Linked DNA regions of Homo sapiens. The protein of the gene in region 2 purifies or fractionates together with the protein of the main gene of each other region. This does not show direct contact. Each region holds a gene or a part of one and is shown on either strand. Other genes may lie near its edges.

Region 1 (3,650 bases), on a different chromosome or scaffold from region 2:
GTTCCCTCCTGACAGTTCATTGATTACAATGTGAAAGCACCAACCTGAGCTAAAATGAAATGAGAAGCCTGATGTTTCAGGCACCAAGTACTTTAAAAATGTCTACTGGCTGTCCTGCAGCATTTTACTTAATCATTTTTTAGAGGAGGGATGAGGACTGGTTGGGTAAAGGAAATCATCAAATGGAGCCTTAAATAACTGATTACAAAAGCTTTTTGTAAAATCACACAAATATTTCAAGAATAAATGCATTCCAGAGATACAAATCAGGCCAAAAGAAACAAAAATCAATGAAATTGGCATTACACTTGTAAAAGGCCAAATGGACACAAGCCCTCGAGGGTCTATTGTGAAGTGCTTGGGGGCAAGTGGCCTCAAAGAAACTTGGGAGTGAGAGGTTTGCACTGAGCTTGGGAAGGGAGCCTTGGGAAAACACCACACTTGTGAAATCAGAAAAAAAAAAAAAGCAAGTGATGGTGCTTACAGCCCAGGACGACTTCCTGCTGGTTTAGGTCAGAAAAAACCTGAGAGAGATTCCTAAAACAATGAGGGCTGTAAGGGGACTGGTGGAAAAAATCCAGTGGAAATATTTTCTCAGGAAAGGAAGGAGCAAAGTCATGGTAAGTTAAAATGTGGTACCCTAATGTAGTAGTAAATTTAAGGCCTGTCGAGGAAATTTTAACACTTCCAACAGGTGACTATATCAGGAAGGAGAAAACCAAGTGCTTCCTGCTTCACCTTCTGCTGCTTTTGGGACTTTTCTAGAGCTAGTAGCTAAGGACAAGACCCTGAACCCATTTTTTCACTGGGAGAGGAAAACCACCAGGCTTCTCAGCTATGGCTTGGCAACTCTGGAGTTCCTATGGCTTCCATCAGGGCTCCAGGCCCTGATAAGTGGCCTCAGGCAGGAGGAGATCGGGAGCGGATGGGAGAGCTAGTCAGGAAGGTGGAATAGGGACCATCCCCAAACACGTTGGCGTATGATGATTTGAGGAACTGGACGTAGTTCTGCATGCTGCGGTTGGTGCTCTCGGACTGCTCCAGGCGATCTTTCAGGTCTTGCAGCCGGCTCTGGTAGCGGCGGTCCGCCTAACGAGGAGAAACAGAGCATGGGCCCGCTGTGCAGTGTCCAAAATAGAAATCCATAGAGACATAGGGACTTTCTTAGGAGTTGCCAGGAGGTTTGGGGAGGCGAGTGTGGAGTGACTTCTAATGGGTATGGGGTTTCTTTCTGAAAATATTCTAAGACCAGGCACAGTGGCTCATGCCTATAATCCCAACACTTCGGGAGGTCAGGACGGAATGATCACTGGAGCCTAGGAGTTCAAGACCAGCATGGGCAACATAGTGAGACTCTATCTCTACAAAAAATACAAAAATTAGCTGGGTGTGATGGTGTGCGCCTGTAGTCCTAGCTGCTCAGGAGGCTGGGGTGGGAGGACTACTTGACCCCAGGAGTTTGAAGCTGCAGTGAGCTATGACAGCACCACTGCACTGTAGCCTGGGTGACAGAATGAAACTCTGTCTAAAACAAAACAAAACAAAACAAAACAAAACGTGAGTCTGGGTGCAGTGGCTCACACCTGTAATCCCAGCACTTTGGGAGGCCATGATGGGCAGATCATTTGAGATCACGAGTTGAAGACCAGCCTGGCCAACATGGCGAAACCCCATCTCTACTAAAAATACACACAAAAAAGTAGCCAGGGATGGTGGCACATACTTGTAATCCCAGCTACTTGGGAGGCTGAGGGTGGGGTGGGGATCATATGAAACCAGGAGGCAGAGGTTGCAGTGAGCTGAGATCGTACCACTGCATTCCAGCCTGGGTGACACAGGGAGACTCCGTCTCTAAATAAATAAATAAATATCTACCCAGGATATCCTTAAGGGATAGAAAGTGATTGGAGAAAAATAAAACCATGTCATATTCACAAAAACAGTAACAACAAAACACCTTGGCCCACAGGCCCCACAGAAGCTAGGTCTGCTGCCCACTCTCCTAGCCCGGCCCACCAGCCTGACTCACATCATCACGGCTCCGCCGCAGCTGGCTCAATTCCGTTTTGGTTCTGCTCAGCTGGGTCTCAAGGTCCAGGATTTTGTTCTGGGCTGCTCGCTCCTTGGAGAGTGCGTGCTCCTTGGTTTGTTCCACCTGCACATTCAAAGGCCCAGACATGAGACTGGTTTACCGGACATGGGGAACACTTGGCAAAGAGAAGGCTGGGCCCACTATCTGGTCTTGCAGACAGCACTTGCACATCATTGTGGACTGTGTTCTCTAGAACGCTGGGGCAGGAACTAACTATGGGGACTATGCCTGCCACCCAGCTTTGCCAGTGCTCCAGGAGTCACCACCTAAGATGTGGTAAGCCTATGTGAGGCTCAAGAGGGTAGTGAGTAAATGAGCAATCATCAGATATCAAGTGCTGAGCCCTCTACGATGAAAATGTGATCCTTACAACTAATTCATGAAGCGGGTACTACTGTGTGCCCATTTTTCAGATGGAGAAATAAGCTGAGAGTTTAGGTGATTTGCCCAAGGTCACAGAGCTAGTCATTCATGAAATCGGGACTGACCTGCCTCCTCGCATCTTCAATGGCACTCTCCAACTGCCTTGCCAGGGTCCCACATTCCCGTGTTTTCTCCTCCAGCCGCAGCTGGGACTGGTGGATTGCCTCCTCCCTCTTGGCAATCACCTGTAGGAACTCGATATTCTGGGCACTGGTCGCCTCCAGTTTCCTAGGTGAAAGCACTCAATCAGATCCTGGGCATACCCCAACCTGTCATGTTCCACCCCGCCAGGGGGCTGCCAGCCTCTCCTGGACTGGGGATCTCATCATGCCAAGAATCTCCAAGGAGCCACAGGAATAAGCCAAAGAAATCTGCAGATCAGCAAGGCGACCAAAGAACTGTGCAGCTGGAGCAACTGGTTAGAGAACAGAGTGAAGGGTGGGAACGCAGAGACTGACCGTGGGCTTTGTTAAGTGTGGATAGCATCACATGGAACACAGCAACTTGCAGCTCAGAAAAATGGTACCATTATTATCCCCACTTCAGAAATGAAGAAACTGAGCCTCAGAGAGGGGAATTCATTGGCCTGAAGTCAGCACAGCTGGCAAGTCTGTAACCAAAACCTAAGCCTGCAACTTCTGCTGTTCACTGCTGCCTCCCACAGCAAAGGGACTTCAGCTACACCACTCAACATCTTGTGTGACCAGCCATAGGGCAAATATGGCCATCCCGATATACACACACTGTCCTCAGTGCACTTCCAGGATGCCTTCCAATTTAAGGAGCTCTGCAGGGCCTGGGGGATCTAGCTGCCATTTCCAAGGCTGGCAGGGCAGAGCAGAGGTGGAGCCTGGAAGGAGCCCACTTGGTTGTAGCCTCCTTGCAAGTGCACTGGCCACCTGAGGCACTTAGGGCCTCCTAGGATGTCAGGCACCTTCACCTCTGAAACTAAGGCTGGGACCAGGGCTGGAGGACTCTTGCCCACCTCTTTTTTTTTGAGATGGAGTCTTGCTCTTTCGCCCAGGCTGGAGTGCAGTGGTGCTATCTCGGCTCAATGCAAGCTCCGCCTCCCGGGTTCACGCCATTCTCCTGCCTCAGCCTTCCGAGTAGCTGGGACTACAGGCGCCCGCCACTG
Region 2 (3,750 bases):
GATCTGGGGCCCGGTTTGGGTACCAGGGTGGGTGTGGCGGGCACCGGCCAGAGGCCGTGACCTGGGCAGGCCTCCTGGGGCAGCCGCCTAACCCTCTTTGTGCCGAGGGCCTGGATTTGGTACTGGGAGAGGAACCAGGTCACCGAGGAGAAGAGAGGAAAAGTAGGGGAAGGTTTTCGGGTAGTTCTTACCAACCACCCAGGCCCGTGGCCTCCTCAGAGAGCCTGGGAGTCACCAAGGAAGAAAATCAGTAAAAGGTGACTGCACCTTTCCCAGCCCCACCCAGTGCAGGGGACCTACAGGTGTTGTCTCAGCGGATGGCAAAACAACCCTGTAAAGTGGGCACCTTTAGGACCCCCCTTTGCAGATGGAGATGAGCTAGGTGGGGACTCCCACTTGTCCGGGTTCCTGCAGGGAGAGGGGATTTGAGCCCTGCTCTGTGTGCAAACCCAGACAGAAGGGCAGGAAACTGTATGGCCACATGCTTTCTTTGGGGCTCTCCTTCTTGTTGGCTTCCTGCAAAGTGCTCAGAAGTTCACATTCTCTTTCTCCCACTTCGGAGGCCTTGTTTTCCCCTCTCTGTCAAATGGGCGTATTCGGAGGCTTTGGGGCCAAGGAGAGCTGAGTTTTGACACCAGCTCTGCACTTACCCAAAGTGGGGCTGGGGACAGTCCCTTGTTGAGTCTCCATTTATTATTCTGATAAATAGAGATGATGGCCGGGTGCACTGGCTCATGCCTGTCATCCCAGCACTTCGGGAGGCCAAGGCAGGCGGATCATTTGAGGTCAGGAGTTCGAGATCAGCCTGGCCAACATGGCGAAACCCCATCTCTACTAAAAATAATAATAATAAAAATAGCCAGGCGTGGTGGCAGGTGCCTGTAGTCCCAGCACTTTGGGAGGCTGAGATGGGCAGATCACCTGAGGTGAGGAGTTTGCAACCAGCCTGACCAACATGGCGAAACCCCGTCTCTATTAAAAATATAAGTTAGCTGGGTGTGGTGGCTAACGCCTGTAATCCCAACACTTTGGGAGGCCAAGGCAGGTGGCTCACGAGGTCAGGAGTTCGAGACCAGCCTGGCCAATATGGTGAAACCTCGTATGTACTAAAAATATAAAAAATTAGCTGGGTGTGGTGGTGTGCACCTGTAGTCCCAGCTACTCGAGAGGCTGAGGCAGGAGAATCTCTTGAACCCAGGAGGTGGAGGTTGCAGCGAGCTGAGATCACACCACTGCACTCCAGCCTGGGTGACAGAGTGAGACTCTATCTCAAAAAACAAAAGCAAAAACAAAAAATAAAAGTTAGCCGGTCATGGTGGCACATGCCTGTAATCCCAGCTACTAGGGAGGCTGAGGTAGGAGAATCGCTTGAATCCAGGAGGTAGAGGTTGCAGTGAGCCGAGATCCTGCCACTGCACTCCAGCCTGGGTGACAGAGCAAGACTCCATTTCAAAAACAAACAAAAAAATAGAGATGATATGGACCCTACTTCAGGTTTGTTGACAGCAGTTAGTGAGAGGCTACAAGTCAGGGATTTAAGCCAGAGCCTGGTGGACGTGGGTCTGATTGGTATGCCTGTTATTAAAAGTATAGGCTCTGGCCGGGCGTGGTGGCTCATGGCCGGACGCAGTGGCTCATGCCTGTAGTCCTAGCACTTTGGGAGGCCGAGGTGGGTGGATCAACTGAGGTCAGGAGTTCAAGACCAGCCTGGCCAGCATGGTGAAACCCTGTCTCTACTAAAAATACAAAAATTAGCTGGGTGTGGTCGCGGGCACCTGTAATCCCAGCTACTTGGGAGGCTGAAGCAGGAGAATTGCTTGAACCCTGGGCAAAAGAGTGAAACTCCATCTCAAAAAAAAAAAAGTATAGGCTCTGGACATAGTTCCACTGTTTCCTACCTCCAGGACCCTGGGCAATTTATGGACTCTGCCAAGCCTCAGTTTCCTTATTTGTAAAATAGGGAAAACAATAGTACTCACATCACAGGGCTGTTGAAAGGATTAAGTAGATACACATGTGAAGTACAGTACTTACCACGACTGGCGCAGAGTAAATGCTCAGTAAATCACTCATTCACTTATTGGACAAATACTGAATGAGCACCTATTGTTTGCCAGGTGCTGTTCTAGGCGCTGAGGATGCAGCCGTGCACAAGACGGATGAAATCCCTGCCCTCAGGGGGCCGACATTTGCGGAGTAAATAAAGGAAAGGTAAATATCTTCCACGTCAGATTGAAAAATAAAGTCAGAAAGGGGATTTGCCATTTTATTTTTTGTAGAGATGGGATCTCGCTATGTTGCTCTGCCTGGTCTCAAACTCTTGGCCTCAAGTGATCTTCCCACCTTGGCCTCCCAAAGTGCTGGGATTACAGCCATGAGCCACTGCCCCTGGCCTGGTTTGCTACTTTAAATTGGGGTGGAGGGAGGGTAACAGGGAAGGTGTCTCTGAGATGATGCTGGGCAGGAGCCGAGGGGGTTGTGGTGCCAGAGCTGCTGATAGCTGTGTTCTTATGACCTGCATCCTGATGGCTTCTGAGTCCTGGTTCCTCTGAGGCCTCTGCAGCCTGCTTCCGGGCAGGGGGCCACACCTGTGCTCACCTGTCCTGGTTTGCCTCCAGCACTGTGTCCTGGGCTGCCCTCGTGGGGCAGGGCTCTAACAAGGGGGAGAAGGCCCTGAGGAGGTGCGGGTGAGGCCAGGTGAGAGGCACAGAGGATGTCCTGGCGCCTCCTGCTCCCCTCTCCCCACCTGTGACCTCACCTCACTCTTCTGCGTCCTGGCCCAGAGCACTGGGACCTCATCCCAGTATCAATCAGGATGCCTCCCTGATGTCCCTGGGCACCTCTCACTCACCTTGTCCCAAACTGACCTTGGCATCTTCCCCCAGAAGTGTATCTTCCCCTGGTGCCCTTATCAGGGAAGGCGCCACTACCCACCTCATCGCTGGGAAAAGAGACCTGGGGCCTCATCCCTGATGCCTCCCCCTACTCCCCGAACACGCCACCCCTTCTGGCAACTGACTCTACGTATATCTTCTCTCCCTCCCTGAAGCCCCTGCCCTGGTCTAGGTGACCACTCCACCACCCCACCTTGCCTGGGTCCTCCTGTCTCCCCACCAGCCTCCTCCCTAGTCTCTGGCCCTGGTCTCCCCGACTCCCATTGCCCCTCCACATGGCAGACAGAGGCTCTTTCCAAAACAAAAACCTGCCTCTGCCCCTCCGTGCTCAGAACCTGCTGTGGCTCCCCAGTGCCCTTGGGAGGAAGCCCAGGTTCCTCACTGTAGCCCAGGAGGCCCTGCCCGGCCTGACTCCTGCCCACCTGACCAGCTACATAGAATACCACTTGCTTCCGGGAACCCTCTGCTTCAGTTCTTCTGTTTCACTTGCACTCTACCCAGAATATCCCTGCTTCCCTCTGCTCTATTCCACTGCCTTCCCCAAACCCTCTCCTCCAGGAAGCCCTCCTGGACTTCAGGGCCTGGAATTCCCTGTCTCAGCCCTGACTGCCTTGGGTTCTCGCTGTCTGGGGCTGGGTCTTTTTCCCCCACTGGCCTGGGAGCCTCAGCTGGGCACGGCTGGGCTGTCACCACTGTGTCCCCAGCACTGCCCAGCAAATCACCTGGCACAGAGCAGAGGCTCACAGCATGTTTGTGGAACTGGACACCAGGTGTGGATGACACAGAGAGAGGAGTCTTCAGAGAGGCTCAGGTTCCTGGTGATCTGCTGTCTGCCTGCGGAGTGTGACCAGGCCGG

Evidence for each region. The genes of interacting proteins can lie anywhere in the genome.
Region 1: the proteins of CEACAM16 (region 2) and ODF2 purify together in Homo sapiens (affinity purification with mass spectrometry; one large-scale study listed by BioGRID and IntAct). This does not show direct contact.

Annotation. Positions count from the first base shown.
Region 1 is NC_000009.12:128,497,506-128,501,155, reverse strand, and holds part of ODF2 (outer dense fiber protein 2), read right to left. Parts: intron 2,744-3,650; coding exon 2,581-2,743; intron 2,156-2,580; coding exon 2,030-2,155; intron 1,090-2,029; coding exon 901-1,089; 3' UTR 1-900. UniProt on the Homo sapiens protein: Seems to be a major component of sperm tail outer dense fibers (ODF).
Region 2 is NC_000019.10:44,697,545-44,701,294, reverse strand, and holds the start of CEACAM16 (cell adhesion molecule CEACAM16 precursor), read right to left. Parts: upstream 2,145-3,750; 5' UTR 2,035-2,144; intron 1-2,034. UniProt on the Homo sapiens protein: Required for proper hearing, plays a role in maintaining the integrity of the tectorial membrane.